Linked DNA regions of Homo sapiens. The protein of the gene in region 2 purifies or fractionates together with the protein of the main gene of each other region. This does not show direct contact. Each region holds a gene or a part of one and is shown on either strand. Other genes may lie near its edges.

The links.
Region 1: the proteins of KLF6 (region 2) and TPM4 purify together in Homo sapiens (affinity purification with mass spectrometry; one large-scale study listed by BioGRID and IntAct). This does not show direct contact.
Region 3: the proteins of KLF6 (region 2) and USP26 purify together in Homo sapiens (affinity purification with western blotting; one study listed by BioGRID). This does not show direct contact.
Region 4: the proteins of KLF6 (region 2) and CNBP purify together in Homo sapiens (affinity purification with mass spectrometry; one large-scale study listed by BioGRID and IntAct). This does not show direct contact.

What each region holds. Positions count from the first base shown.
Region 1 is NC_000019.10:16,077,630-16,086,019, reverse strand, and holds part of TPM4 (tropomyosin alpha-4 chain), read right to left. Parts: intron 5,106-8,390; exon of another isoform or gene 5,068-5,105; coding exon of another isoform or gene 4,945-5,067; intron 4,108-4,944; coding exon 3,974-4,107; intron 1-3,973. UniProt on the Homo sapiens protein: Binds to actin filaments in muscle and non-muscle cells. Plays a central role, in association with the troponin complex, in the calcium dependent regulation of vertebrate striated muscle contraction.
Region 2 is NC_000010.11:3,773,234-3,781,480, forward strand, and holds the end of KLF6 (Krueppel-like factor 6), read right to left. Parts: intron 6,997-8,247; coding exon 6,873-6,996; intron 6,358-6,872; coding exon 6,306-6,357; 3' UTR 2,763-6,305; downstream 1-2,762.
Region 3 is NC_000023.11:133,090,364-133,094,109, forward strand, and holds part of USP26 (ubiquitin carboxyl-terminal hydrolase 26), read right to left. Parts: intron 1,081-3,746; 5' UTR 990-1,080; intron 401-989; 5' UTR 355-400; intron 1-354. UniProt on the Homo sapiens protein: Deubiquitinase regulating several biological processes through the deubiquitination of components of these processes.
Region 4 is NC_000003.12:129,168,119-129,176,293, forward strand, and holds part of CNBP (CCHC-type zinc finger nucleic acid binding protein), read right to left. Parts: intron 3,654-8,175; 5' UTR 3,640-3,653; coding exon 3,516-3,639; intron 3,421-3,515; coding exon 3,328-3,420; intron 3,166-3,327; coding exon of another isoform or gene 3,160-3,165; coding exon 2,961-3,159; intron 2,453-2,960; coding exon 2,335-2,452; 3' UTR 1-2,334. UniProt on the Homo sapiens protein: Single-stranded DNA-binding protein that preferentially binds to the sterol regulatory element (SRE) sequence 5'-GTGCGGTG-3', and thereby mediates transcriptional repression. Has a role as transactivator of the Myc promoter.

The DNA.
Region 1 (8,390 bases), on a different chromosome or scaffold from region 2:
TCAGCTCACTGCAGCCTCCATCTCCTGGGTTCAAGCAATTCTCCTGTCTCAGCCTCCAGCATAGCCGGGACTATAGGCATGCACCACCGTGACCGGCTAACTTTTATATTTTTAGTAGAGAGGGGGTTTCGCCATGTTGGCCAGGCTGGTCTGGAACTCCTGACCTCAAGTGATCTGCCCGCCTTGACCTCCCAGAGTGCTGGGATTACAGGTGTGAGCCACCGCGCCCAGCCTCCCTTCATCTTTACTACCAGGCACTTTTCTAAGTGCCTTCACTTTCACAACTGCCCTATGGAGCAGGTAAATTATCCACATTTTACAAATGAAGAAACTAAGGCATAGAGAGAGGGTAAGTAACTTAAGGTTACAGAGCTGGTAAGTGGTAGAGCTGAGGCTCAGCCCTTGGCAGTCTGACTCCAGAGTCTGTGCCCCCTTTCTTTTTCTTTTATTTTGAGAGATGGTGTCTCACTCTGTTGCCCAGGTTGGAGTGCAGTGGTGCCCTGAGAGCTCACGGCAGCCTTGTCCTCTCAGGCTCAAGCAATCCTGTTGCCTCGGCCTCCTGAGTAGCTGGGACTATAGGTGTGCACCACTGCACCCAGCTAAACTAAAAAAAAATTTTTTGTGGAGGTGGGGGTTTTGCAATGTTGCTGAGGTAGGAGGATCGCTTGAGCCCAGGAGTTCAAGGCTGCGGTGAGTCGTGATTGCACCACTGCTCTCCAGCCTGGGTGACAGAGCAAGACGTTGTGTATTTATTTATTTTTTTTCTTGAGACAGGTTCTCACTCTGTTGCCCAGGCTGGAGTGTAGTGGTGTAATCATAGCTCACTGCAACCTTGCCTTCCTGGGATCAGGTGATTCTCCCACCTCAGTCCCTTGAGTGGCTGGGACTACCAGCATGCACTACCATGCCTGGCTAATTTTTAATATTTTTTTGTAGAGATGGGGTCTCACTATGTTGCGCAGGCTGGTCTCAAACTCCTGGGCTCAAGCGATCCGCCCGCCTCCCAAAGGGCTGGGATTACAGGTGTGAGCCACCGCACCCTGCCAAGACCTTGTGTATTTAAAACAAGAAAAGAAAAGAAAAGAAGAGGCCAGCCTGGGATAATGTGTCATTGATATGTATCATTCCCACCCAGCACAGAGACCATATGCTTCTTGCTGTCCAATAAATATGTTCACGTGGGGTGTCACCCGTTCTCAGCTAAGTCTCAAAACACCCTCCCCCACCTGTACGAGGTCTCACCCTCAGCATGTGAGCAAGCTCTCTGGGTTATTTATTGCCCCAAAACCCCTTGTAGTACCCAAGAGATCAAAGTGACTTGCCTAAGGCTCCATAGAAAGTGCCAGTGGTAGAAGCTGACTCTAGATCCCCAAGCTTCAAGTATATAATTCTTTCTACTGAGACACAGCAGTCTTTAACAGGGGTGTCACCAAAGGCCTCTGGGGACATGGTGCAAACAAGAGACTGGCCTTCGCAGCCTCCCTTGGTTTGCCAATATGGGAGCCCTCAACGTCAGCATCCAGCCAGGCTGGTCTGACTGTGAACAGCAGCTAACCCAGGCCACAGGCACAGCCAGGAACTCTCGTGACTGGGTCCTTCCACTGCCCCGTGGCTGCCGGAGCTGCCACTCTCTCCCTTGATTCAGTGGCTGAAGCAGAGTCTGCAGTAGCGTCTGTTCCCTCTGCCCTGGCTGTTCCACTACTTGGGAAGAAATTTCCAGCTTGGGTGACATGCAATCTCCAAGATTCCTTAGCTGGTTTCTAATCTCTGGTTAGTGGTCACAGCAGCACAACCAGAAATGCATCTTAAATTAGCTAGGCGTGCCAGCACTTTGGGAGGCCAAGGCAGGTGGATTACAAGGTCAGGAGCTTGAGAACATCGTGGCTAACACGGTGAAACCCTGTCTCTACTAAAAATACAAAAAAATTAGCCGGGTGTGGTGGCGGGTGCCTGTAGTCCCAGCTACTTGGGAGGCTGAGGCAGGAGAATGTCGTGAACCCAGGAGGTGAAGCTTGTAGTGAGCTGAGATCACGCCAGTGCACTCCAGCCTGGGCGACAGAGCGAGACTCTGTCTCAAAAAAAAATTAGCTGGGCATGATGGCATGCGCCTGTAGTCCCAGCTTTACTCTGGAACTCTGGAGGCCGTGGCGGGAGGATCGCTTGAGCCCAGGAGGTCGAGGCTGCAGTGAGCTGTGATCGCACCACTACATTCCAGCCTGGGTGATAGAGTAAGACCCTGTCTCAAAAAAAAAAAAAAAAAAAGAAATGAATCTTTGGGAGGTGTTTATACTGCAAAAGCATGGTGGCTGGCTCAAGTGAGAACTCCGGTGTGAATGAGGGGCAGACGCGATGATCACTGGTCGGGCCCACACCATTGCCACACAAGGAACTCCTTTTCCACCACACACAGACTGCTGCTTCTGTGAATTACACAATCTACCCTCAGTCTTCCAGAGAGCCTGTGCCAAGGCGTGCCAGAGAATGATCTGGCTACCGAGGAGAAGGCACCCTACTGGTGGCTGGGTTGCAGCACAGATACCATGGGCGGGTGAGGAACGTGGTCAGTTTCTTTTTGAGACAGAGTCTCACTCTGTTGCCCAGGCTGGAGTGCAGTGGTGCGATCTTGGCTCACTGCACCCTCTGCCTCCTGGGTTCAAGCTGGGGGATCTTGCCTTAGCCTCCTGAGTAGGTGGGATTACAGGTGCCCGCCACCACGCCCAGCTAATTTGTGTATTTTTAATAGAGACGGGGTTTCACCATGTTGGCCAGTCTGGTCTCAAACACCTGACCTCAGTTGATCCACCCGCCTCGTCATCGCAAAGTGCTGGGATTATAGGCGTGAGCCACGGCACCTGGTGCATGGTCAGTTGCAAGTACATTAACCATGCTGGTTTGCAACTGTCCCTGAAATAGCTGTCACCGTCCAAAAGCCTAAAGCCTGACAGCTCTGCTAACAATCACCTGTGCATCCCAAGTTTCCTTTCCTCCTCTCCACAGTACTCTGCTTTTTTTTTTTTTTTTTTTTTTTTGAGACAGAATCTCATCTGTCACTGAGGCTGGAGTGCAGTGGCACAATCTTGCCTCACTGCAGCTTCAAACTCTTGGGGTCAAGTGATCCTCCCACCTCAGCCTCTTGAGTAGCCAGGAGTACAGGCGTGCACCACCACACCCGGCTAATTTTTGTATTTTTTGTAGAGACAGGGTCTCACCACATTGCCCCAGTTGGTCTTGAACTCCTGAGCTCAGGCGATTTGCCCGCCTCTGCCTCCCAAAGTGCTGGGAGCACAGGCAGGAATCACTGCATCCGGCCTACCTGAAATTTGGTGTCTAGAGAACACTAAGAGGCACTGTGGCTTTCAGAGAAAATACGAGAAGCAGTGCTTTGCAAACTGACCACCATGGACAGTCATACTTGCAGTCTCACATCTGCCCGTTCTGTTTGCCTTTCTGTCTGTCGGAAGTTTCTTTTCATGGTTACCGTAAGGATAAACACCCCTCACTTTATTTTGAGATGGAGTTTTGCTCTTGTTGCCCAGGCTGGAGTGCAATGGCACGATCTCGGCTCACTGCAGCCTCTGCCTCCTGGGTTCAAGAGATTCTCTTGCCTCAGCCTCCTGAGTAGCTGGGATTACAGGTGCCCGCCACCATGGCAGGCTAATTTTTTTGTACTTTTAGGAAAGACGGGGTTTCACCATGTTGGCCAGGCTGGTCTCAAACTCCCAACCTCAGGTGATCCGTCCGCCTTGGCCTCCCAAAGTGCTGGGATTACAGGCATGAGCCACCGTGCCTGGCCACGGATAAACATCTCTACCCATGGAGTGATGGTTTACAAAGTGCTGTCATGCACTTTTTTGTGGACACATGCATGTCCTTGTGACCTTGTTTACTTTCACACCAGCTCTGCGAGGTCGGCAGCATGATCCCCATTTTCTAAAAGCAAACACGGATGCCACCAGATTCAAAGCGTCCTTACCTCTCACTCTCATCTGCAGCTTTTTCTGCCTCCTCCAGCTTCTGCAGGGCCGTGGCCAGTCGTTCCTGAGCCCTGTCCAACTCCTCCTCAACGAGCTGGATGCGTCGGTTGAGGGCGGCCACATCACCTTCAGCCTGGGGAGGTCGGAGGTGCAGCCATGTTAAGAAGTATCAGGCCAGCCACCAGTGGGAGCCTCCCCCATGTCCTGCCCTCTGTTAACCTGATCTTCCCCGTCAAAGCCCACCCAGGAGTCCAGGCCATAGGGAATTTACACTCATACCAAAATTTCAGTATGATCTTCCCGGAAAATGTCTGGGAAAAACATCTACCACTCCATAGCAAAAGATGAGCATCGCCAAGCGTGGTGGCTCATGCCTGTAATCCCAGCACTTTGGGAGGCTGAGGTGGGTGTATCACAAGGTCAAGAGATCGAGACCATCCTGGCCAACGTGGTGAAACCCTGTCTCTACTAAAAATAGAAAAATTAGCTGAGTGTGGTGGCACGTGCCTGTAGTTCCACATGCTCAGGAGGCTGAGGCAGAAGAATCACTTGAACCCGGGAGGCGGAGGTTGCCGTGAGCTGAGATCGTGCCACTGCACTCCAGCCTGGTGACAGAGCAAGACTCCGTCTCAAAAAAAAAAAAAAAAAGCGAGTGTCCCAGTACAAGATGGGTAGTTGAGTCAACATAGGAGTCAAACATACCATGTGCTTTGAGATGAATGTCAGTGCTGGTCTCTCCAGCAACACAATAGACCCAACGTTAGGCTAAGATCTAAGATAGGCTCTTCTCTGAAAAAGGCACACAGTGTTACCACGTAGAGAGTTCTAGGGCTCACTGTGAGATTCTTAGAAAGCAAGGCCATCAGTGACCCGGCTCATTGTGTCCTGTGAGTTCCGCTCCCATTCACCTGAATGGCAAGATAAATGCAAGACTATGGAGCCCTCAGTTAAATGTTGGCCATGCAATTACCAAGGTGGGACGAGGCGGGGGAGCCTCGTTGGAATTCCATCCTTCAATCCGCCTGGCTGAGAGATGGCAGGACAAAAAGATATGGAAAGGGAAAGAAAACTTGGTTGCAGGCATGGAAGACATACCCCAATAGTGTTATTGGCTTTTCAAGGTGTTTTTACCTACAAGAAAGGAAGTACAATGGGAAGCATTAAACCAGGAACTCCAGGGCCAAAAAGTGCTGGGCTGGAATCCCCGCTTTGTCATTTTCTTTTTAATTTTTTTTTTGAGATGGAGTCTTGCGCCGTCACCAAGGCTGGAGTGCAATGGCATGATCTCGGCTTGCTGCAACTTCTACCTCCCGGGTTCAAGCAATTCTGCCTCAGCCTCCTGAGTAGCTGGGATTACAGACGGACACCACCACGCCTTGCTATTTTTTTGTATTTTTAGTAGAGACAGGGTTTCGTCTTGTTGGTCAGGCTGGTCTCAAACTCCTGGCCTCACGTGATCCACCCGCCTTGGTCTCCCAAAGTACTGGGATTACAGGCGTGAGCCACTGCGCCCGACCGTGCTTTGTCATTTTCACAGCCACGTGGTGTTGGGAAGGTTGCTTCCTCATCCTGGCCCTCTCCATCCCAAAGCCTGATTAGTTACCGGACTGCCTTGAGGCTGTAACTCCAGAGGGTGGCGCCGCTTATGCCCAGCAGGTGGGATGTGCCAGAGAAAGGCATCTCTTACTGCCACGGTTTTATTTTACTGCAATTTCATCCTCACACATCGCACCCATTTTACAGGTGAAGAAACCGAGGGGCCCCACTGGGGGAAGTGGTTTTATTCAGTGACTCAGAATTGGTAAGAAATGAATGGCCTCTTAAGACCCACCCAGGGCTCTTCCTTGTCAGAACCTGTCCCCTAGGTCCTGCCAGGGCTACGAGGCAAGGCGAGTTTTCCAGCGATGCCTGCTCTTTGGAAGGAATATTGAGAACGGGTCAAACGGGCCTCAACCGAGAGGAAAAGGGAAGCCACGCTAGCTTTTTCCTATCAGAACAAATGAAGAATCCCTGAACTGGGGAAGGCTATCAAAATTATTAGGAAGGCCGGGCGCGGTGGCTCACATCCGTAATCCTAACACTTTGGGAGGCGGAGGTGGGTGGATCACATGAGGTCAGGAGTTCGAGACCAGCCTGGCCAACATGGTGAAACCGCATCTCTACTAAAAATACAAAAAAATCAGTTGGGTGTGGGGGCAGGCGCCTGTAATCCCAGCTACTTGGGAGGCTGAGGCAGGAGAATCGCTTGAACCCGGGAGGTGAAGGTTGCAATGAGCCGAGATCGCGCCACTGCACTCCAGCCTGGGTAACAGAGCAAGATTCCGTCTCAAAAAAAAAAAATTATTAGGAAACCACTCCCTCTCCTGCCCTGAGTTCATACTGGGGGAAAAAAAAATAGAATGAGGCTAACGTGGCCGAAAAACTACACAAATAGAGTCAGGAAGGTTTCTCAGCCTCAGATTCCTAGAAGCAGAAAGAGGGCACTCCCACAGGTGTTTCGTATTGCAGTGTCCTCTGAAACACCAAATGCAGAGAATTGTGAAAACCACTGATGAAACTGTCTTAAGAAACGTCACTGAGGCCTTCCCATGAATGGGTGCCTTTCATTCTTTTTAATTGCCTAGATCTTAACTCCTCCTACCACCTTCAGTAACTGGGCCAGGAACTGATGTTGCAAAAACACTCTGCAACCAACACCATTATCGAATTCCAGGACATTTTCATAACCCGCCAAAGACAAACAAACAAACAAAAAACTGTGTACCCATTAGCAGTCGAGGAATTGATTTTAAAGATCAAACAGAGGTGCTTGATTCATGAGTTGTCTTTTAAGAAGTGAGTAGCCCTTATGTGGGAAATTCTGAATCCTGGCAAACAACGCTTTTGGCAGATTTTCAGCTGTCTGGAGTTGGGAGATACACGCATATCTGTACATGCATACATATATATGTATTTTTGAAAAACTGCTAGTCACGGCCGAGTCATTTTGGGTTCCACCCCTTCCTGCAATCAAAGCCTTCCACACGCTACAAAGGATTTCCCTTATAAGGTAAAAGAGGCTTGCTAGATACATGTGGCAAAGGAACAGGAAGATGTCAGTTAATCACACAAAAATCTAAACGAAACCAGCTGTCGGGAAACAGGCCCAGAAGTCTACCACACGCCGGCTCCTGGCTTATTCTACAAGAGTGAAAGGTTTTTTTTTTTTTTTTTTTAACCCACCCCTGGTCTTAGTTCCTTTTGCCCTGGGAGAGGTTTTCCCTCTCCCAGACGGAAAGAAGCATCCTTTGCTTTTTCAAGAACTTTTCGAACTTTTTCAAGAAGTCTTCAACTCTCCAAAAACATCTTCTCTCCCAACTAGACGGTCTTGCTCCTAAATCTTGGCTCCAGGCTGAGGGCCATTTTGAAGCCGAGTTAATTGTCCTCCAGCGAGATGACTTGGGATGAGATCAGAGCAAGAGCTGTGTCGGTTAAGTGTGAGAAAGAGGCCAGACCGGCTACCGATTGAGGCTTACACCGGGTTTCTAAGGCCTCTTGGGCCAAAGCAGCCCTTACAGGATTAGAGGCTTCAACCAAGGCCCATGCTGCAGCCCCCATCTGGGCTCTTTCCAGTCCTGGCAATTCACACCACCAATTCCATCTGGCTGGGCATCTTTTGCCTCTCTAGGGTCCCCACCCTGAGCCTCAACACTGAACTTTCAGGGCTTTTGGGCTTCAACCTCTATCCGCACACCCCCCCACCCTCATCATACAACTTTCTTGCCTCTGAGTCTGTGCACACCCATGTCTCTGGTCCCAGCAAACTTATTTATTCTATAAGACCCAGCTCAACCTCCATTTTGGAGCCTCCCCTGTCATGCTCCCATAACTGCACAGAAAACCCGTGGAATGCAGACCTCGCTCCATCAGTGAGTCAGCTCCCCTGCCTCCATTTGTCTATGAGCTCTTCCCAGGGCAGAGAAAACACAATTGAGGCTGGGCGCCGTGGCTCACGCTTGTAATCCCAGAACTTTGGGAGGCCAAGGTGGGCAGATCACGAGGTCAGGAGTTCGAGACCAGCCTGGCCAGCATGGTGAGACACTGTCTCTACTAAAAATCCAAAATAAAAAAAAAAAAATTAGCTGGGCGTGGTGGCGGGCACCTGTAATCCCAGCTACTCGGGAGGCTGAAGCAGGAGAATCTCTTGAACTCGGGGGGTGGAGGTTGCAGCGAGCCGAGATCGCACCACTGCACTCCAGCCTGGGCGACAGAGTGAGACTGCCTCAAAAACAAAACAACAAAAAACAACAACACAATTGATTATTTACAAAGCGCCAGGCTCCACGCCTGAGATTTACTCCTGGGACCCTCCCTGCTACTCTGGGGGGTCGGGATTCTTATCAGTCCTACTCGCAGATGGGAAAAAAGCTCCTAGAG
Region 2 (8,247 bases):
AAAAAATAATTCCAGAGATCATGTGATCATTGACATATATATATATATATGTATATGTATATATATATTTGTATATGTATATATATATTTGTATATGTATATATATATTTGTATATGTATATATATATATTTGTATATGTATATATAAAATGTATATACATACATGTGTATTTGTGTGTATGTATGTACATTTTATATATACATACACATATATTTAAATACAAACACACACACACTTACAGTGTTTTGTACAGATCATGTAAAGGAAAGTAAATGCAACCTAGCAACTGCAGCTGAACGGGACTCGTAGGCCAATGGGCATTCTGGTTAAATCTGTCTTTTAAGATTCTGTGGTGATCGTGCCGCCTGGCGTGGCTTCTCTCAGGACATGTGGAACCCATATTTACTCTCCTCTTTGTCTCTTCATCCACAGACGTTTAGAGAATTCTCGTTAAAATTACTTAGAAACAGAAAGACCTTGTTATAAAATAAATCTAGTTAAACACACTTTGTTGTGGTCCTCATTTGCGTGATGCATGGGCCTCATTTTCGTCTCTCTGTATCTTAACTGTGTGCATTAGGTGATTCATGCCAATTAATGCAGGATGTCACATCTCCAATTGCTTTCTCTATCTTCTTAAACATTAAAAATAAATATGTGCCATCTGTCTCATATCTTGAAAGCAATTCAAAATGGTTACTTTTGTTTTCTCAGGATTACAGCACAATTTGTAGCTGGAGTGCTTCTGAATTGCGAGAAAGCCCTGTCTGCATTTCATACATGTAATGTCATATTATGGTGGCTGCTGCAGATCGAACAGCAAAGGTTGGGCGAGACAGCAGTGTGGGATGGTGACAAAAAGCACGGTCTTTCGCATCTAAGAGACCTGGACCAGTATGCTGAGCCTGCTGCTTCCTAGCTGTGACCTCAGGAAAGTTGTGTTGTCTCTCAGGGCCTCAGTTTTCCTCATCTGTGAAATAGATATAACATCTACTGCAGCGGTCTCCAGCCTTCTTGGCACCAGGGATTGGTTTCACGGAAGACAGGTTTTCCACGGACCAGGGATGGTGGGACTTGGGGGTGGAGAAGGGTAGGGATAGGTGGGGGTGGGAGACGGTTTGGGGATAAATCTGTTTCACCTTAGATCACCAGGCATTAGGCCATTATATTCCCATAAGGAGCATGCCACCTGGATGCCTCGCATGCACGGTTCACAATAGGGTGGTTCATGCTCCTTTGAGAAGCTAATGCCACCACTGATCTGGAACAGTATCGATCCGTGGCCTGGGGGTTGGGGTCCTGTAATCTACAGCACAAGAAGTAGGAAGCAGACACCATTATCTGCATCATCATGAAATTTTGCTAGGAAAGTAATTCCGTTTGGCAAGGATGGTTGTTTAAAAGTAGCTCCTGGTGGCATAATATTAACAGAAAAGAGGGGAGTTAGGTGTGAAAGCTGTGTTCTTTCTCCGTAGCAATTACAGCAGAAAAGGAAGACACTTTCCTCCGATTGCCTGTGTTGTCCTTTGAGCACTCAGGTCAACTTGGATAGGGAACGGGGCCGGTAAAGTGGGGACACTTGGGAGACTTTGGGTCCATTTACAGCTACAACAGCACTTTTCAAAAATGGTGATTTTAATTTAAAAAATGGTATGCTATAACGCAACAAATGTCTAAATAACTTAACTGTAATTAGACGGGCAAAGGGCAATCTGAGAAAGTCCTAGTTTCCATTTGAGCACAGTTTTCCTCAACAATTCTTTCATGTAGCACAAGAGAAAGCTTTCTCGAGCTGAGGCCAGCACTCTGAAGATGGCGAACGTGTAATTTGAAGTGCACCCTATACTTACACACCACAGAATTGTAGTGCTATCGAGAATGCTGGATCCACGTGACCTAGCCCTATTTTAGCAATAAGCAAACTGAGGGTCGGTGTAGCTCAGCAAATTGTCCAAAGCACACAGCTCGTTCAAGCTAGAACATTTCCTTTCTTCTTTTAGCTAGGTTTCAAAAAATTTGTTAAGCAGACTGAAATTTTTTATACTTCTATAAATACCCTAAGGTTGCAGCCGATTCCTTGCACGGCAGCGCTAACAGCCTTATTTGAACATAACTTAGCTGTCCTGCATAGTCTTTCCATGACAAAGTGGTCAAGTCTTAATAGTAGCCGCGAATGACTATCAAGACTTTAAATTTAGACTGTACATTCGGGGCAATCCAACCATGAGTCATGTTGACATGTGCTTGGGGATAGAACACGCCCACGAATCCCGGCAATAATGTCGTCTGCTCCCCACGTCCTGCCCTACCACAGCTCCCTCCAAACTGCTGACATTTTTACCACAGTTATAGAAAGAAAATTAATGAACATTCCTAGTCTGGGCACACATCTTAACATCCATCCCCTCTCCAATTATAAAATTAAAAGCAACCACTGTAAATTCCCCACGTTTAGCAAAATGAAGAGCTATGGAGAGGAGTGAGCGCTTAAGCCACCTCAAGTAGAATATCCTTGTTGTCACACTAAGAAGCTGGTTCCCACGGAAACACATTGATTTACCCCATTGCTACTGATTGGCTTAGTGTAATCTGAAAATGGACTCCTACAAGGATCAAATTGTCCTGGTCCACACAGTAAAGCAAAGCTGAGATTACTTGCTAAACATTGCTCTAAAAAACAAAAGGCTGCCTATTTTCAAACAAACTCTACATTTAATGTATCTTATTGGCCTTAAAAGAAAAAAAAGAGATGTAACTCCTCTGGCAGTGATGTCATCTTTTATTTTCTGCCCTCCTTGACTGAGAGTGGGCTGAGGTTGTGAGAACAGCCCTCTGGCCTGGAGTCCCTCTGCCTCCTCCACCCCTCCCAGACATGCCTCAGCCAGGTGTGTGGCAGGGCTGGCTGGGGAAGGTAGGCCCAGCTCTAGCTGCGGAACTGGAGCAGGCTGTGGAGGCACAGAAGTGGCAGGGAAACACTCAAGTTTGTCGTTGTGCAGGTGCCTCTGCAATGCATTCCCTGGCTTGAGCAATGGAAGATCAAACCGGCATGGTTCCCTACTGTGCCCACAGCCGGGGGGTTGTTTTTGTCAGTCCTTGGAGAAGAGTATTTGATGCATTCAGGGAGGGCAATGTCAGGCTCGCTGACATCCTCTCCAGCTCCCAGGACAGGCTGTGGAAAGAGGAAGGGGCTGAGGTCGGTGAGTTGTTCTCAGGGTTGCTCAATGAAGATTTGCCCCCAGGAGGAAGCCAGGGTGATGAATGCAGGAGGAATCTGTTCCAACAACCCCCTTCCCCCAAAAAAAACAACCAGACTCAAGATGCTGATAAGAATTCTTTTATGTTATTCCAATAAAAAATACATTCATACAGAAATATAACAATCTTGCAAAAAACAATTTCAAATAAAATCTTGTAAAACAAAATTTTACAAAAATCTTACAAAGATTCTTTAGATAACAGGGTGCTTCCAAAAAAAAAAAAAAAAGAAATTTCACTAATAGAAATTTTTTTTTAATTTCAAGCAAAAAGTTTCTGCTTGATTGAGGCTCAGTTATCACCTGAACAGAATGTACTTCTTTATGTACGTGCTAATTATGAAAATCACAGGCATTGACAGGTACGGTACCCAGCCCCACCCAGGCAAACAGCTCCGACATGTTTCGTAAGTGAGACAAGCCAGTGCAAGTTTTTTTTTTTCCTTTTTTTTTTTTTGTCTTTTGCTTACCTTCTTGCTTAATGGAATTGTTATGGCTAAGCACATAGAAGGCCAAAAAAGGAGTTTTCCAAACCCAGCAAATCAAGTGCTTGGATTCTGAACTGCCAAAAGAAAACTGCACTTCCCCTCTTAAGTAAAACGAAATGAGTTTCTTAGGTAAATGTATTCATCAGCCCAGATAAAAAAAAAACCAGTTATGTGAGCGTTAGTCACTGCTCATTTCCAGGAAGATCAAACAAAATACCAGCCCAGCCAGACTCACATGTGTGTATATATATATAAAGCAAAGAGCCACACCCACAAGCCAGCAGCTGGGTGAAATATCAGCTGTCCACGCCGTGGTATGCCAATTCGGGGAAATTACTCCTTGGAAAAACTGGAAGAATCTACTTGCTGGAAAAAATAGCTTCATCTGCATAAAAAGTGTTCTACAAAAGAATCCCTGTGGTTAGCTTACTCTTAGGTTAGATCTTCTAATAAGGCTGAAATTCAAAATCAAAACCTTAGTGTGTCCGAGTCCAGCCTGGGTTCCAGCATTCTGTTCAGGCCACTTCTGAACGGCCGAAGGTGCCCCATTCCAGACCTGCCCATTTGATGGACAGAGCAGACAGCCCGGAACAGATTCAAGCAAGAAAGTCCTCCGCACATCGTTAAATTAAAGATAAAGCCTCTATAAAAGTTAGGTTATGGTTTTCATTTTTACCTCCTTTATGGCCATTTTGAAATATTTCTTCACAGGCTGTGGAATTTTCTAGCTAAACATTCTAGTTTCTCCTTAAAAAAAATATTTATATATTATCTATATATATAATATATATATATACACACATACACATACTGTACACACAAATATACATACACAAGAATTCTGCCCACTTTTTTAAAAAAGTAGTATACTTTCTGTATTACCAACAGATAGCTAGACAGATATGTGAAACTTGTGCCTTTTAAGCAAATACATTAACATTGGGGGTTTTTTAATACTTCTGTATCTTTAATATGTGTGAAAATGTTACATATTAAATACAGCCGGTGTGTGATCTATACAATTGTTGTGCAAGGTCTATATGAAAGTCTCAAGGTGGCAGAATTGGTCAGATTTTTCCATTTTCCTGTTTTCCATTTTAACACTGACAGTCAAGTTGCCTAAAGTGTTGAACAAATACTGACATGTAAAGGGAGTTTCACTCTATGTCTTTGTGAAGGAGGACCTTAAAGAGATTTTTTTTCTGTATTATACGTTGATACAGTACACTGCCAGGTGAAACAAGAGCCTTAATAAAGCATGCATCGCCCACACCCCTGTATGAGACCCCCACAGAAGGGATCGCTTGCGTAAGGCACCATTATGAAGGTCAACAGTGCATTAACAGCTAGAAAACCAGAAATTAGTCCTCAAGGCATAAATAAGAGAAACATAGCTGCATGAGAAAACAGTTTCTAAGCGTTAGTGGTTTTATCCACCCAACTGAGAAAAATTTTAGGTTCTTAAGTCTAATGAAACATTAGACCAGCAATTCCCAGCCCCAGCTTTGTGACACTCAATACGTGTCCAATTTCTTCTAAGGGCATCACAGAATTCTCCAAAAAGTTAATTCAAATTCAGAATCATTTAAAAATAATCCTGTGTTGCACAATGCCTTTCTGGAAGGGGAGTGTTACAAACTTGGAGGGGAAAAAAAATTGTATATTGCCAGGCCCGGATGGCTAGGGGGTCACTGTATTAGACAGATTGGATCTTAGCTGCTCATTAACTGGAATCAGTATTGCAGTCCTGACTTAAAAATGGAAAAGCATATAGTTCCCCAGACCATGCATGACTTTTTGTATTCTAAGGAAAAGTTAAATTGTTGTGTTATATTTGTAAATACACAGCTTATACAATGGGTTACAAATGAGCTATGTTGTAGCGTGTAAAACAAGCTACTTGACACATTGCACATTTAATAGCTGCACCAGACACTAAGAGTTCCTCTCACACAGAAAAGGGGGAGAGAGGCTCTCCCTCCCCACACCACTCGCCACTCTGGGGTCCTGAGTTCCCACGCCCACCCTCCAAGATTTTCCTTCTTTTTTTGTTTTTGTTTTTTTGTTTTTTTGATTTTTCTTTTTTTTTCTAAGGTGCAGACACCCCCTCCCCCCAAGGAAATGATTGGTGGTCATCTCATCTCATGGTATACTCCTTACACACAAAACATTCAAACTACTTTTTTTCCATCTCTTGCAGTCTTGCTAACCACAAGGAAAAAAAGTTGGCCTCATCATACGGTCAGTAATAGATCCTCAACATACAATCAACCCAACCATTAGCATTCTCAGTGTGCATGCTCACGGCAAAGGCTTAGGCGCCGCTCGGAAGGGCGGGTACCAGTGGCGAGTCCAGGGTCACCCACATACCATGCACCACGGGTGCTATGCCGCTTCTTACAGGACCTTTTTAGCCCTCAAAAGACCTTCCAAGGAGAGGCCCTGGAGGCAACTGGGTAGGGTGCAGAACGGCATGCTTTGGCTGGAACACGCATCCCTCCTTCCACGGCCGGCTCTCAGCCTGGAAGCCTTTTAGCCTACAGGATCCACCTCTCTGCTCCCTCAGAGGTGCCTCTTCATGTGCAGGGCCAGGTGGTCAGACCTGGAAAAACACCTGCAAGGGCAAATCAGAAGCACAGAAGAAGTTAGGTTCCCATCCCTTGCCAGTGTTCTGGACCAGCGCCCTCACCTCCCTGCCCTGCCCAGCCTAACCCCCTGCAGGGAAAGGTGGGATTCTCCTCCCAAGCCTCATCAGTGTCTTCAGGGACAGGAGATACCAACTGATAGGAATGTGAATTAAGAATGTCCCCCACCAGTGGCTGGAGGTTCTTTGGAGAATCTGAACGGACTTCATTTCTAATTCTTCAAATATGAAAACTGTTGAAAGGCCAATCTCCAAACATATCAATAAACTGACTCCAATGTCAGGTGTATGTGGAACAGTTCTTCCTAACCATGGACAATGAGCACACCAGAAACTTTCTAAAAAGTCCCAGGCTTGAAAAGAAATGTTCACACATAGGAAACTGCATGCCTTCCTTCGAATGTGCCCTGCACACCTACTCAACCCTGGTCATCACATTCCCAAGGCCCCACGCTCCTTGCCCAGCATTGTCCTCAGGCACGTACCTGTCACAGTGGGAGCATTTAAAAGGCTTGGCCCCGGTGTGCTTTCGGAAGTGCCTGGTTAACTCATCACTTCTTGCAAAACGCCACTCACACCCTTCCCATGAGCATCTGTAAGGCTTTTCTCCTGGGGAGAGAGCACAGGACAAGCAGCCCATGACTTCACTGACCCGCAGACGGAAAGGGGAAATTCAACAACACACACAGTGGTGGGATGCAAGGCCAGGGACCCAGTGGCTTCTGGCATCGGTAACACACAACAACTGGCAGCCTCAGAGAGACAACAGCAGCTCTCTCCTGACCCAGTCTCAGGCCTCCCACTGCTGTCCAAGGGACACAGCTTCAGCCAAGCCCATGGTGCTGTCATCAAAGTTAACGTGGAAGAACGACCACGACTCAGACCAGCAAAATGCTTGCGGGATGAGGTGTCAGCCTGCCGGACCCACAGCCCCGGCAAAGGCAGAGCTATTGCTTTCTTCATGGCAACTGTTTCTCCCAAACACACTTCTGTTCCATCCTCACTTCCCTATGGAATGTGCCTCTGCAGTTTCCTCAGGGACGTTCTACCTTTCTACAAAGCTGAAGTTACGAGCTTCTGGAAAGCCCCAGTACAGGGCCCCGGAATCATTCTCTAAATGGCAATTGAACAACTGGGTTCACTTCATTCCTTGGTCAAATCATAAATATGAATTTACTACAAGTGCTACCTGAGAAAACAAAGTTGTCAAGCCAATCTCAGGGTATGTTGAGACAGGCCTGGGCCTGGATATTGGGCCACCCGGATCTCAATCTCAGCTGTCACCAAGCCTGTCTGGGACTGACTCTCAGCAATTTGCTCTCCTACTGATAAGAGAAGAGCCTGCATCACGTGATCACTAAGACCCTTCCCAGTTCTAAATGTTCTGTGATTCCTCACCAATTATCCTAGAACATGTCAAGGTATTTTTAAATAGCACTTTCACCTAGGTATGGCATTTCATTAAGAAACTGTTTCAAGCGGTATCAGAAACAAAGGCTGCATGAGACACGGAGAAGTTCTCAGGAAACACTCGCTGATCAATGCTGCTGCTTACAGAGCAGGCCGGTCCCACTCGGGCCTCGGGCCGTCAGCATCAAACCCACACACTCCACGCTGCCCAGCAACCCTCTGTCCTGACCCTTGAGTTTCATTTAGGAAACCCCAGGGCCGCTCGAGGTAGCCTCGTGCGAGTGCACTGGTGAAGGGGCAGTGGCCTCGGATCCCCAGCACTACTAAGGGGTGGGGGGTGGAGGTTTGGGTGTCCGTGGAGAAAAGGATCTAGTCTCTTGTTTGTTTAATCTGAAAATTGTTACACATTTATCCAACTCAAAAGTCCAGTCTTTAGGATTCTACTCTGAA
Region 3 (3,746 bases), on a different chromosome or scaffold from region 2:
CTCTACAGATGTTATTAATAAGTACAAATCATAAGGCTTACTGTTAAATGGCTACAGGGAAAGACCACATTCCAGAACATATGCCATAGCAGGCAACAACTCCAGAAGTGTAAACTTTGGTTAGAAGATCCCCACTCTAAGGTTTGGTATTCCCATGTACTGAAAGCTTGAATCCCAAATTGATATGAAATTCTATCATTCATCAGAAAGGAATTTTGACCCAGTTACTGTATACCTTGCCTGAAAATTGACAGCAATGGTGAAATCAAGTTCAGACACAGGATCTCCACATGTTTGAAACAAACATATCAGATAGCAATCTAGGGGGAACAGCACAGATGCAGGAATGCTTACCAATCAACCCTTGTGGTTGGCTGCTATATAGAACAGAGACTATGACCTGGACAGGCACAAGAGAGAGCATTTATTATATGGGAGCATTCAACATAACCCAAATAACATTAGCACTTTTTGTCATGATCTATTTACCCAAATTCATTCATCCCACTGTACTTCTTTTGTGTAACAAGACAGGAAACACAAGGCTTAGGGAGCCTTAGCATGCAAACCCCAAATCTTTGTCCCCAGCTTCCAATGCCTGAATTCATTGACAATTTTTAACAGTGTCACAAAGTGTGAAAATACTATGTTAGAAACCAGCTGAGCTGCCAGACTACTGCCTTAGAGTGAAAATGAGCCCAGTGTCTTTCAGACTCAGAAACTGGAACCTTGTCATACCAGCAATGTCTGCAGAGCAAGGAAATGGACAACAATGTATGGAACAGTAAACATCTGAAGGAGTAATAACCTACATATTACTTTAATTGCTGGCGTATACCTTCAGGAACCCTAGCAAATAAATGTCACAAGTGGAGCAGGCTGGCAGACTACCATTCCCTGACACCTACTTGGTCCTCAGGACCTATCTTTTCCCTCCTTGTATATATAAGGCTGGCTTTCAAATTACCTTCAGACCCATATTCTCATACCTGAAACAAAGGCACCTGAGCAGCACTCCGCACTCCTTAACTCTTGAAGTTTTCTACAATCCAGTCCAGTCCCTCCTGCTGCTGTCTCTTACTGGTTTTCCAAAAAATAGAAATAAAGATCAGAACTTTGGTGTTAAAAAGTCAAAATCAGGTTTATTTGAAATCAGAACAGTCTAAGTTTGTCAATGTCTCTGTAACAGCGGCACCCACAGTGTACATGAGGAACACAATTAAGAAGTAGAAAAATATGCCCCTGTCTAATGAAAGGAACAGGTTGTAGAAACAGAGTCAGTATCATGGAGTCAGCAGTACTTAGGAAGAGTGACTACCACTGTTGGTAGTCCCTATCTCTAGAACTCTAGGAAGGGGTTTCAATGCCATCATTAATGATGCACAGGGGACAGGAGGAGGGGGCTGCCCTTCATAAGACACTAGTCACCTCACACAATGTAAGGACACCCTGAACTTGTCTAGGTGATCTTGACAATTGATTCCAATTCCATCTTTTTCACATTACAGAACCATAGGCTCACTGGTACTGGACTTTTCCATCACAGGTTCTGAAGGAGATGGTGACTGTATGAATCTGCCAAGAGACTTGCCTGTGGATGGACAGCCCAGCACCACTGCAGGAAAATTACATAACTTGGAACTCATTTTGGTGGATGGCTGGGGAACACTTCCTTTTCCACTTATTCAGAGAAACTTCTGAAAATGGTTGGTTGGATCAAGGTACCCAATCATACAGGGTGAAACATAATATAATAGGAACTGCATTAATCTTGTGGTTACAAGATCAGACAAGACTATTGCTTCAGAGGTTTGATTGTCCCTTCAAAATAAACTATAGTTCATCTTGCTTTAATCAAACATTATAGGGGAATTATATATTAAGCTAATAGGCAAGATCTCAACTTCTAGAAAGGGGAGTCTCAAAGATGTCAGTTGATTGTATTCATTACCATGGTGAAAAAGACTCATACAGGATCACAGATAACAAATTTTTGAAATCGGAGGTTTGAGTTGTTCACCAGCTTATACAATAGCATTCTCATGGTGTATTCGTGTAAGTAATTAGTAACACAGTAAGTTAGAAAAACATGGACATCAGAAGGAAGCTAGTATCATTTAGGATAATTTCACGAATAATTGCAACCATTAAATAATGTTGGTGCCATCTGACACTGAGAATAGATCTTCAAAGAAATAATCCACAAAAGTTTACAGTTGCTAATATTGGCTTTTGTGGGTATGCTCTTTGGAAAATATCCCCTCTAGGATTCTATGGGCGAAGTGGACATAAGAAAAGTGCCTTCGGCCTAATACCTGGATCTAAATTCTAAATTCTAGGGTTAAATTATTATTTAAGATCTAGGGCTCTGCTCAAAAAGTCAGGATCTATGAGGCTAGTTAATATCTTAATTCCTGAAATCTTGGCACCTTATATTAGCAAAGGCAGAGGTAACTTTCATTCTTACCAGCAACTGATTTTTCAGGTTTCTAAATTCAATCTAGAAGGATATTTGGAAAACACCAACTTTCTACCAATAAAGGTACTAATAAGTCATTCAGATGCTAGATAATATATATAATTCAAATCCAAATCAAGAATAAACCAGGCTAGGCCAGGCACAGTGGCTCACGCCTGTAATCTCAACACTTGGGAGGTTGAGGCAGGTGAATGTCTTGAGCCCAGGAGTTGGAGACCAGCCTGGGCAACATGGCAAAACCCCATCTCTCAAAAACAAAAAGAAAAACAAAACAAAACAACAACAATGACAACAAACCATGCATTGCGGTGTGCACATCCCAGCTACCAGCTACTTGGGAGGATGAGGTGGGGGGATCACTTGAGCCCAGGAAGGCAGAGGTTGCAGTGAGCTAAGATTACTGCCACTGCACTCCAGCCTGGGTGACAGAGTGAAACCTCTCTCTCTCAAAAAAACAAAAAGTAAAATTAAATAAACATTTTAATCAGTATCCAGAAAAATTACTAGATTAAATCATTCAACAAATATTACTTGAGTGCCTGCTATATATCAGGCACTATTAGAGACACCACGTTTATAGCACGGAAGAAAAAAGTTCTTGCCCCCATGGAGCTTAAAGTCTATTGAGGAGGAAGAAAAATTAGCCAGGCATGGTGGCACATGCCTATAGTCTCAGCTACTCAGGAGGCTGAGGTGGAAGGATTGCTTGAGCCCAGAAGTCAAGGCTGCAGTGAACCACGATGGCACCACTGCACTCTAGCCTAGGCGACAGAGTGAGACTCTGTGTCCAAAAAAGAAAAAAAAATCCTCAACTCTCATAGCATTATTTAACAGATAATGTCAAAAAAGAAATATAAGCCAGGTGCAGTGGCTCACGTCTATAATCTGAGCACTTTGGAAGGCCAAGTGGGGTGGATCACTTAAACCCAGGAGTTGGAGATCAGCCTGGGCAACATGGCAAAATTCCGTCTCTATAAAAAATACAAAAATTAGCCAGGTGGGTTGGCATATGCCTTCAGTCCCAGCTACTCAGGAGGCTGAGGTGGAAGGATCACTTGAGCCCAGGAGGTCGAGGCTGTAGAGTGCCGTGATCACACCACTGCACTCCATCCTGGGTAACAAAGCCAGACCCTGTCTCAAAAAAAAAAAAAAAAAAAAAAAAAAGAGTAAACCAGGCCAAAGACTAATAAGTAAATTCAATCAGCACCATTTAAAAAAATACTTACACTTTATCCTCAAAGCAAAAATCTTGTTTCTCAGTGATTAT
Region 4 (8,175 bases), on a different chromosome or scaffold from region 2:
AAATGAACTATATGATGCTAACCGCATTTAATTTCGAAGTGGGGGGAAACAGGGCATGGGGAGTGAATAATGGTTGAAGTTCCAGGCTCTAACTGTACATCCTTAAGTAAATTAAGTTTAACTCATCTATTAAAAAGTGAGTTAAAACAGATGAGTTTTAAGGTCCATCTCAACTCTAAATGAGACACTAGCAAAAACAAGGAATCCACCACTTCAGATCCTTATGAAACCCAGGAAAAGGTGGGGCACAGTGGCTCACCTGAGGGCAACAGTTGGAGACCAGCCTGACCAACACAGTGAAACCCCATCTCTACTAAAAATAACAAAAATTAGCTGGGTGTGGTGGCGGACACCTGTAATCCCAGCTATTTGGGAGGCTGAGGCAGGAGAATTACTTGAACGGGGTGTGGGGGTGGGGGGTGGAGGTTGCAGTGAGCTGAGATTGCACCATTGCACTCTAGCCTGGGCAACAGAGCGAGACTGTCTCAAAAAAAAAAAAAAAAAAAAAAAAGGCCCAGGAAAAACACAAAAATAGCAATGGTATTAAAACTGTTCAGAATCGGCCAGACACGGTGGCTCGCACCTGTAACACTAGCACTTTGGGGGGCGGGGCAGGTGGATCACCTGAGGTCAGGAGTTGGAGACCAGCCCGACCAACATGATGAAACCCAGTCTCTACTAAAAATACAAAAAATAGGCCGGGCGCGGTGGCTCACGCCTGTGATCCCAGCACTTTGGGAGGCCAAGGCGGGCGGATCACGAGGTCAGGAGATTGAGACCATCCTGGCTAACACCGTGAAACCCCGTCTTTACTAAAAATACAAAAAAAAAAAATTAGCTGGGCGCGGTGGCGGGTACCTGTAGCCCCAGCTACTCAGGAGGCTGAGGCAGGAGAATGGCACGAACCCAGGAGGCGGAGCTTGCAGTGAGCCGAGATCGCACCACTACACTCCAGCCTGGGCAACAGAGCGACACTCTGTCTCAAAAAAAAATAAAAAAATAAAATAAAAATAAAAATACAAAAAATTAGCGGGGGGTGGTGGCGGGTGCCTGTAATCCCAGCTACTCAGGAGGCTGAGGCAGGAGAATTGCTTGAACCCGGGAGGTGGAGGTTGCAGTGAGCCAAGCCTGCACTCCAGCCTGGGCGACAAGAGTGAGACTCCGTCTCCAAAACAAAACAAAACCACCACCACCAAAAAACCTGTTCAGACTGAACACAGAACTCAAGGGCATTATTATAACAGATTACAAAGTGAATTTTCTATAGCTTTGCAAAAGTATCTAAATCCCATACATCCTTTTAACAGCAATTTTCATTATTGAAGACATGACTTAAGTACAAAAAGAAAAGTCCAAACTGTCAGCTTTCAGTCCTCCACATTCCCCTCTTTAATATGGTATTTTGCACTATATACATTAATGAAAATTTGAAACAAACAAAAAGAACTTTAGTCAAACTCCCCTTCCTCCTCCAGCTTTATTGGAATAGTTTAAAATTACATTTCTATTTTCTAGGACTTCAGTTGCTCTTTCCATCTGACTTTTAAAAACTGATTACAGCAAATGAAACACAGTTGTCTAAGTGATATAGTATACAAAAATAACATCTTGATTTCTGTGAAAATGCATTTCTCTGCAATTCCTGAATAGCTCCAAATTATGCTAACTCTGAGCATTGATGTTTACTCTGGGTTTTAGATTTAGTCTTTGAAAATAATGTGTTCTAAACCTTTGCCATCACCATCTATGTGTCCAACATCAACACTGTGATGAAGTTGTTCCTGTTTAGGCTTTTATTCCGATTTCTCTCGAACAGCCATTAACACGCATGTTTATCTTTTTGTTTACTCCCACTCAACTGTATGTTCTATGTAGGGCCTGATACAGATGTTACTTGATGTTATTTAATAGCTACTGAGGTCAGACAATCCAAGACCATCATTATACTAAAATTAAAGTTATTTATGGAAGTTCATAGACACTTCCAGAATTGGTTTTACCTCCTACATGGGAACATGTTCAAGGAACCCAGGACGGGCTTACTGGTCTGACTCAACTCTTCCCATTCATCAATCCCTATTCACCAGTGGCACGGAAAGGGGGTTCTTTAACAAAGCATTATACATAACACCTCTACCAAACTAAACATAAACTTTTTTTGTAGTTAAATGCAGAAAGTCGGTTTTTTTCCACCCCTTTCCTCCTTTTACACGGCAAGTAAAGCTCACTGGCCTGGGAGTTGCCTCTATCTGCCAACCTTTGGCCAGTGAAGAGGATTCAGAGAAAATAATACAACCATCAATCAGAAAAAGGAGGGGCGACAAAGGAAAATAATTAGGCTGTAGCCTCAATTGTGCATTCCCGTGCAAGGTGCCCTGACTCGCCACAGCGGTAACAGTTGACTTCACTTGTCTTGCTGCAGTTGATGGCTACATGACCAGTTTCACCACACCTAAAAAAGAAATTAAAAGTTTTCACAATGGGCCTCAGAAAAAAACTGTCTACCAAAGCAACAGTCACCATGCAGAACAAAACGCCTGATCTTTGTTTTCATGCAATTAACCCCTAAGGTTTCACAGATATGTACACAACAACATTTATCAAATTATACACTTACATGTCACAAACAGGCAAAGATTTCTGGTTACATGATAAAAGATTTATGTATATTACAGAGCTTTCTATGAAGTCTCTGGAAGTTTCAAATTATAACACTCTTACTTTTATATATTAAAAAAGTCCAGTTGTGAAAACTGCCCAGGTACCATAAGCCACAGGATATCAGGGCAGAATACAGAATTATATACAGATAGACTGCCAGTTACATATGCTGAAAATTGGTCTTATCTGGTCACAGCTAAGTTTCACTGAATTTACTAAGGCCCTTCCATTTATAGCTAATTCATCTCTGGAAGAATCTCTGCAATGAGTTTTCTTCTAACAACATTCTGACACCTTACCTATAGCACTTCACTTTGGTGCAGTCTTTTTGAATGTGTCCGAATTCTCCACAAGAATAGCATTTCTGCTCATCTGCATGGTCGCAGTCACGAGCCAGATGGCCTGGTTTGCCACAGTTGTAGCAGCATTGCTCTCGCTCTCTCTTGGGCTCCTTGCAGTCCTTGGCAATGTGGCCACCTCTACCGCAGTTATAGCAGGCTTCAACAATAAGGAAAAGAAACAGGCCAAGACTATAAAACCTTTACAAAGTGTTACGTTTTAAATTATACAATACAAAACCTCAAAGGTGGAAATGCTATACACAGTTGCATGTGCTCACCTCTCCAAGCTCTAGAGGGGTATGAAAAGGAAGTGTTAAATACTTACCATCCTCCTGAAGATCACAATCCTTGGCAAGATGACCAGACTCACCACAGCGATAACAAATGTCTGGAAGAGACGAGGAAACAAACTGGAAACCTGTTTTGAGCAAAAACAAAGAATTCGGCTAGTCAGACCAGTCTTGATACTAACAAATACTGAAGTACTTCAAATTTTTCTATTCGACAAAATACCTCTATCCGAGGTAAAACCACCTCTGCCACGGCTTCTCATTCCACGACCACGGCCTCCACCAGTAGGACATTCCCGGGCCCAGTGGCCAGATCGTCCACACTTGAAGCACTCATTGCTGCTCATGGCTGCAGTCAGATCTTTGAAATATTAAAAGTAACAGCATTAAACCACTGAAAGTTCTTTTAACTTTTATTCTCTATTAAATGTATTTTTGGAAAATTATTCTGGGGAAAAAAGCTAGCTAATATATTGGTTAAAAAAATAGCTGGGCATGGTGGCTCACGCCAGTAATCCCATCACTTTGGGAGGCCGAGGTGGGTGGATCATGAGATCGAGACCATCTTGGCTAACATGGTGAAACCCCGTCTCTACGAAAAATACAAAAAATTAGCCCGGTGAAGTGGCAGGCGCCTGTAATCCCAGCTACTTGGGAGGCTGAGGCAGGAGAATGGTGTGAACCCAGGAGGCGGAGCTTACAGTGAGCTGAGATGGTGCCACTGTACTCCAGCCTGGGCAACATTGAGACTCTGTCTCAAAAAAATAAAATAATCACACAACTACATGATTGGGTATTATAGACTTATTATAATATACACCTTGATAAAAGTGATGGAATTTACAGGGTTAGGGTCAATGAAAATCCATTAAGAGAAATAATTGGTAGTGGCTGGGCACGGTGGCTCATGCCTGTAATCCTAGCACTTTGGGAGGCTGAAGCGGGTGGACCATCTGAGGTCAGGAGTTTGAGACCAGTCTGGCCAACATGGCGAAACCCCGTCTCTACTAAAAATACAAAAAACAGCCGGGCATGGCGGCATGCGCCTGTAATCCCAGCTACTCAGGAGGCTGAGGCAGAAGAATCGCTTGAACCCGGGGGGTGGAGGTTGCAGTGAGCCGAGATCATACCACTGCACTCCAGCCTAGGGGACAAAGTGAGACAGACAGGCAGGCAGGCAGGCAGGCAGGCAGGCAGACAGGCAGACAGGCAGCCAGGCAGGCAGGCAGGCAGGCAGGCAGGCAGGCAGACAGACAGACAGACAGACAGACAGACAGACAGACAGACACACACACACACACACACACACACACACACACACACTGGCAGTAATACTCATTCACTCATTCCAAGTCCAACTTAATGGACACATTTGCATGGTTATAAGGCCTATATAAGCTTTATTTTGGGCAAATAGAAGTCATTTATTTACTCACATCAAAAAATTGGAATAACCCAAACCAATGAAGCTGTAAAATGGATTCTCGGAGTGAGGAGTCAGTGAAGGAAAATACTCTCTTAACCTTAGCACCTGACGTAGTACCTAGTTATACTGCAGCACTTGCCTGGTGACTGAGATATTCCTTAGAACAGATATGTTAAAACAAATGCAAGATACAAATCTTATCTCTAGATGGTACAAGTACAGTAGGCCCTCTATATCCATGGGTTCTGCATCCATGGCTTCAACCAACCTTGGAATAAAAATATTCAGTGGAAAAGTTGCATCTGTATTGAACATGCAGACTTTTCTTGCCATTATTCCCTAAACAATACAATGTTAACAACTACTTATTCAGCATTTACATTGTGTTAGGTATTATAAGTAATCTAAAGATGATTTTAAAGTATATGGGAAGATGTGCAAAGGTTGTAATGCAAGTACTACACTATTTTATATTGGGAACTTGAGCATAGGAGGATTTTGGTATTTGAGGGAGTTTGTGGAACCACTTCACAGATACCAAGAGATGACTGTATAATAAAAATAGTAGGAAAACGACCATGAGTTACACCAAAGCGCTAATAATAGCACCTACAGCACTGGCAACATTTGTGTTTTGTTTTCTTTTATTCTCCCCTTTCCAAATGTTTCTGTAATGTAATTTTACATTTTAAACAATGCTACTTAGAATTTCATAATAAACTCCTTTAATTGGTTATCATTTTAAAATAAAAATAAAACTCCCACTAAAGCAAATGGATTTTGTACTTATGTAACAATCTAAAAATAAATTGAGGCTATTCTTAAAATAGAATGAAATGGAATAGAACATAATGAAAACAATGCAACTACATTTTCACACTTCCATATCTAAATATTTTTACCCTTAATTCCACTGTCAAACAATGGCACACAAAGTCGTATTTTAAATATCCTCTCAAACCTAAGCACAGGCACCATCATCTAGAAAAACATATTTCCAACTGAGTAAAACTTGAGTGGATAATCGAATTAGCTAACCTAACCACAGTGCCAAAGACCCAAAACGCAGTCCGAAAAATGGCAAGGTTCTCCACTTTCAGTAACTGTTTAATCATTAACTTGTGGACAAATTTAGTGACTTAAAATTACACTGAAGTTGAGTTTCAAAAAGTTCCCATTGTCAAATATACAAAAGAAAATAACACAATACTCACTTACCCCAACTCTGTGTAATCTGATTTAGGATAAATTCTTAGAGAAATCTTTCTACTAACTCTTGCCACTTGCCTATGAACATATTACCAAAAAAATTATATGGCTATGAGTTACTGGTGCTTTCAGATATACAAAACATTTCTAGTCAGAACAAACAGCCAGTGAAGGATATTAAAAACAGATTTTTACAGAATTTGAAATAGTATCTGCTTTGTAATCATTCTTTTAACTGTACTAGTATTAGCATCCTAAATTATGTGAAGTATTTGCTGGTTTCCACCACAGAAGAGTCAGAATTAAAAAAAAAAAAAAAAAAAAAAAAACGAATGGCGGGCAGGGCACGGTGGCTCACACCTGTAATCCCAGCACTTTGGGAGGCCGACGAGGATGGTTCACCTGAGGTTGGGAGTTCGAGACCAGCCTCACCAAGAAGGAGAAACCCCGTCTCTACTAAAAATGCAAAATTAGCCAGGCTTGGTGGCTCATGCCTATAATCCCAGCTACTCAGGAGGCGGAGGCAGGATAATCTCTTGAACCCGGGAGGTGGAGGTTGTTGCAAGCCAAGCAATTGCACTCCAACGTGGGTTACAAGAGTGAAACTCCATCTCAAAAAAAAAAAAAAAAAGGCATATAAAATGGTCAAAGAAAAAAGGCTGCTTATGGCACCACTTCCTCCCCATCTTCATTTTGTATCTTCTCCAATTTAGTCAGATCAGCTTGAGCTCATTTAACTATTGATCTCAAGGAATTATTTGCACATAAATGATTACTTTTACAGTGTAATCCAGACAATTTGCAAGGCCTGAATATCTTATAATTTAATATTTAAACAAGATACATCTCTTTTAGAAAATACAAAACAAGGATGGGCACAGTGGCTCACACCTGTAATCCCAGCACTTTGGGACGCCAAGGCAGGAGGATCACCTGAGGTCAGGAGTTGGACATCAGCCTGACCAACACAGTGAAACTCCATCTCTACTAAAAACACAAAATTAGGGCAGGCGTGGTGGCTCACGCCTGTAATCTCAGCACTTTGGGAGGCAGGCGGATCATGAGGTCAGGAAATCAAGACCATCCTGGCCAACATGGTGAAACCCCAAATCTACTAAAATAAAAAAATTACCCAGGCGTGGTGGTAACGCGCCTGTAGTCCTAGCTACTCGAGAGGCTGAGGCAGGAGAATCGCTTGAACCCGGGAGGTGGAGGTTGCAGTGAGCTGAGACTGGGCCACCACACTCCAACCTGGGTGACAGAGCAAGACTCCGTCTTCAAAGAAAGAAAGAAAGAAAAAAAACTATTCTGTAAAACAGATATGCATCTCAGTGGCAAAGGCAGAACTTTACACACTAGAATATAACAGAAGTTTTAGATGTTTTGCTTTTTTTTTTTTTTTTTTGAGACAGTCTCGCTCTGTCACCAGGCTGGAGTGCGGTGGCGCCATCTTGGCTCACTGCAACCTTCACCTCCTGGGTTCAAGCGATTCCCCTGCCTCAGCCTCCCACATAGCTGGGACTACAGGCGTGCACCACCACGCCCAGGTAATTTTTTGTATTTTAGTAGAGACGGGGTTTCACCATGTTGGCCAGGATGGTCTCGATCTCCTGACCTAGTGATCCACCCGCCTTGGCCTCCCAAAGTGTTAGGATTACAGGCGTGAGCCACTGCGCCCAGCCTGTTTTGCCATTTTTAGTCACACATAATTTTGTTTACTAGAGTAAATTAATGCTAATAAAGAAAACACTAAGTCTTAAAAGGGAAGAAAAACATTAATAGCCTCCAAATGTCATCAACATGACACGTGATTTTAAAAGAGGTCTTTGAGTGGCCTTAGGTACTATGTATGCAATCTGCCCTCTCCTCCCTTTGGCTAACCCTATCGCAGTGAATCAGGTGGTCTACAGTTTCACTGGTAACTGGTCCCTTGTGATAGACTTGTCTCTTTAATAACATTATTAAACTAACCACTTTCCACAATGTTTTAGACTCACACTACTTATATTAGGCAGCAGGTCCCCATCCTAGCACTCATCTCATATGAACATTATTTAGTTTAAAGGTCTTTACAGAATTCCATGATATTCCTTAGGAAAACTAAGGTAAGGTAAGACAGCTGAGAATCATGGCTCCATGAGTCTGTCTCATTGCCTGTGACTGCTCCTGGCTGGAATTTCACTGCACTGTCCTGGTCTCCCCTGCTCCTTTTCCACCTGTCACAACTTTTTCCAACCTTCACGGGCCA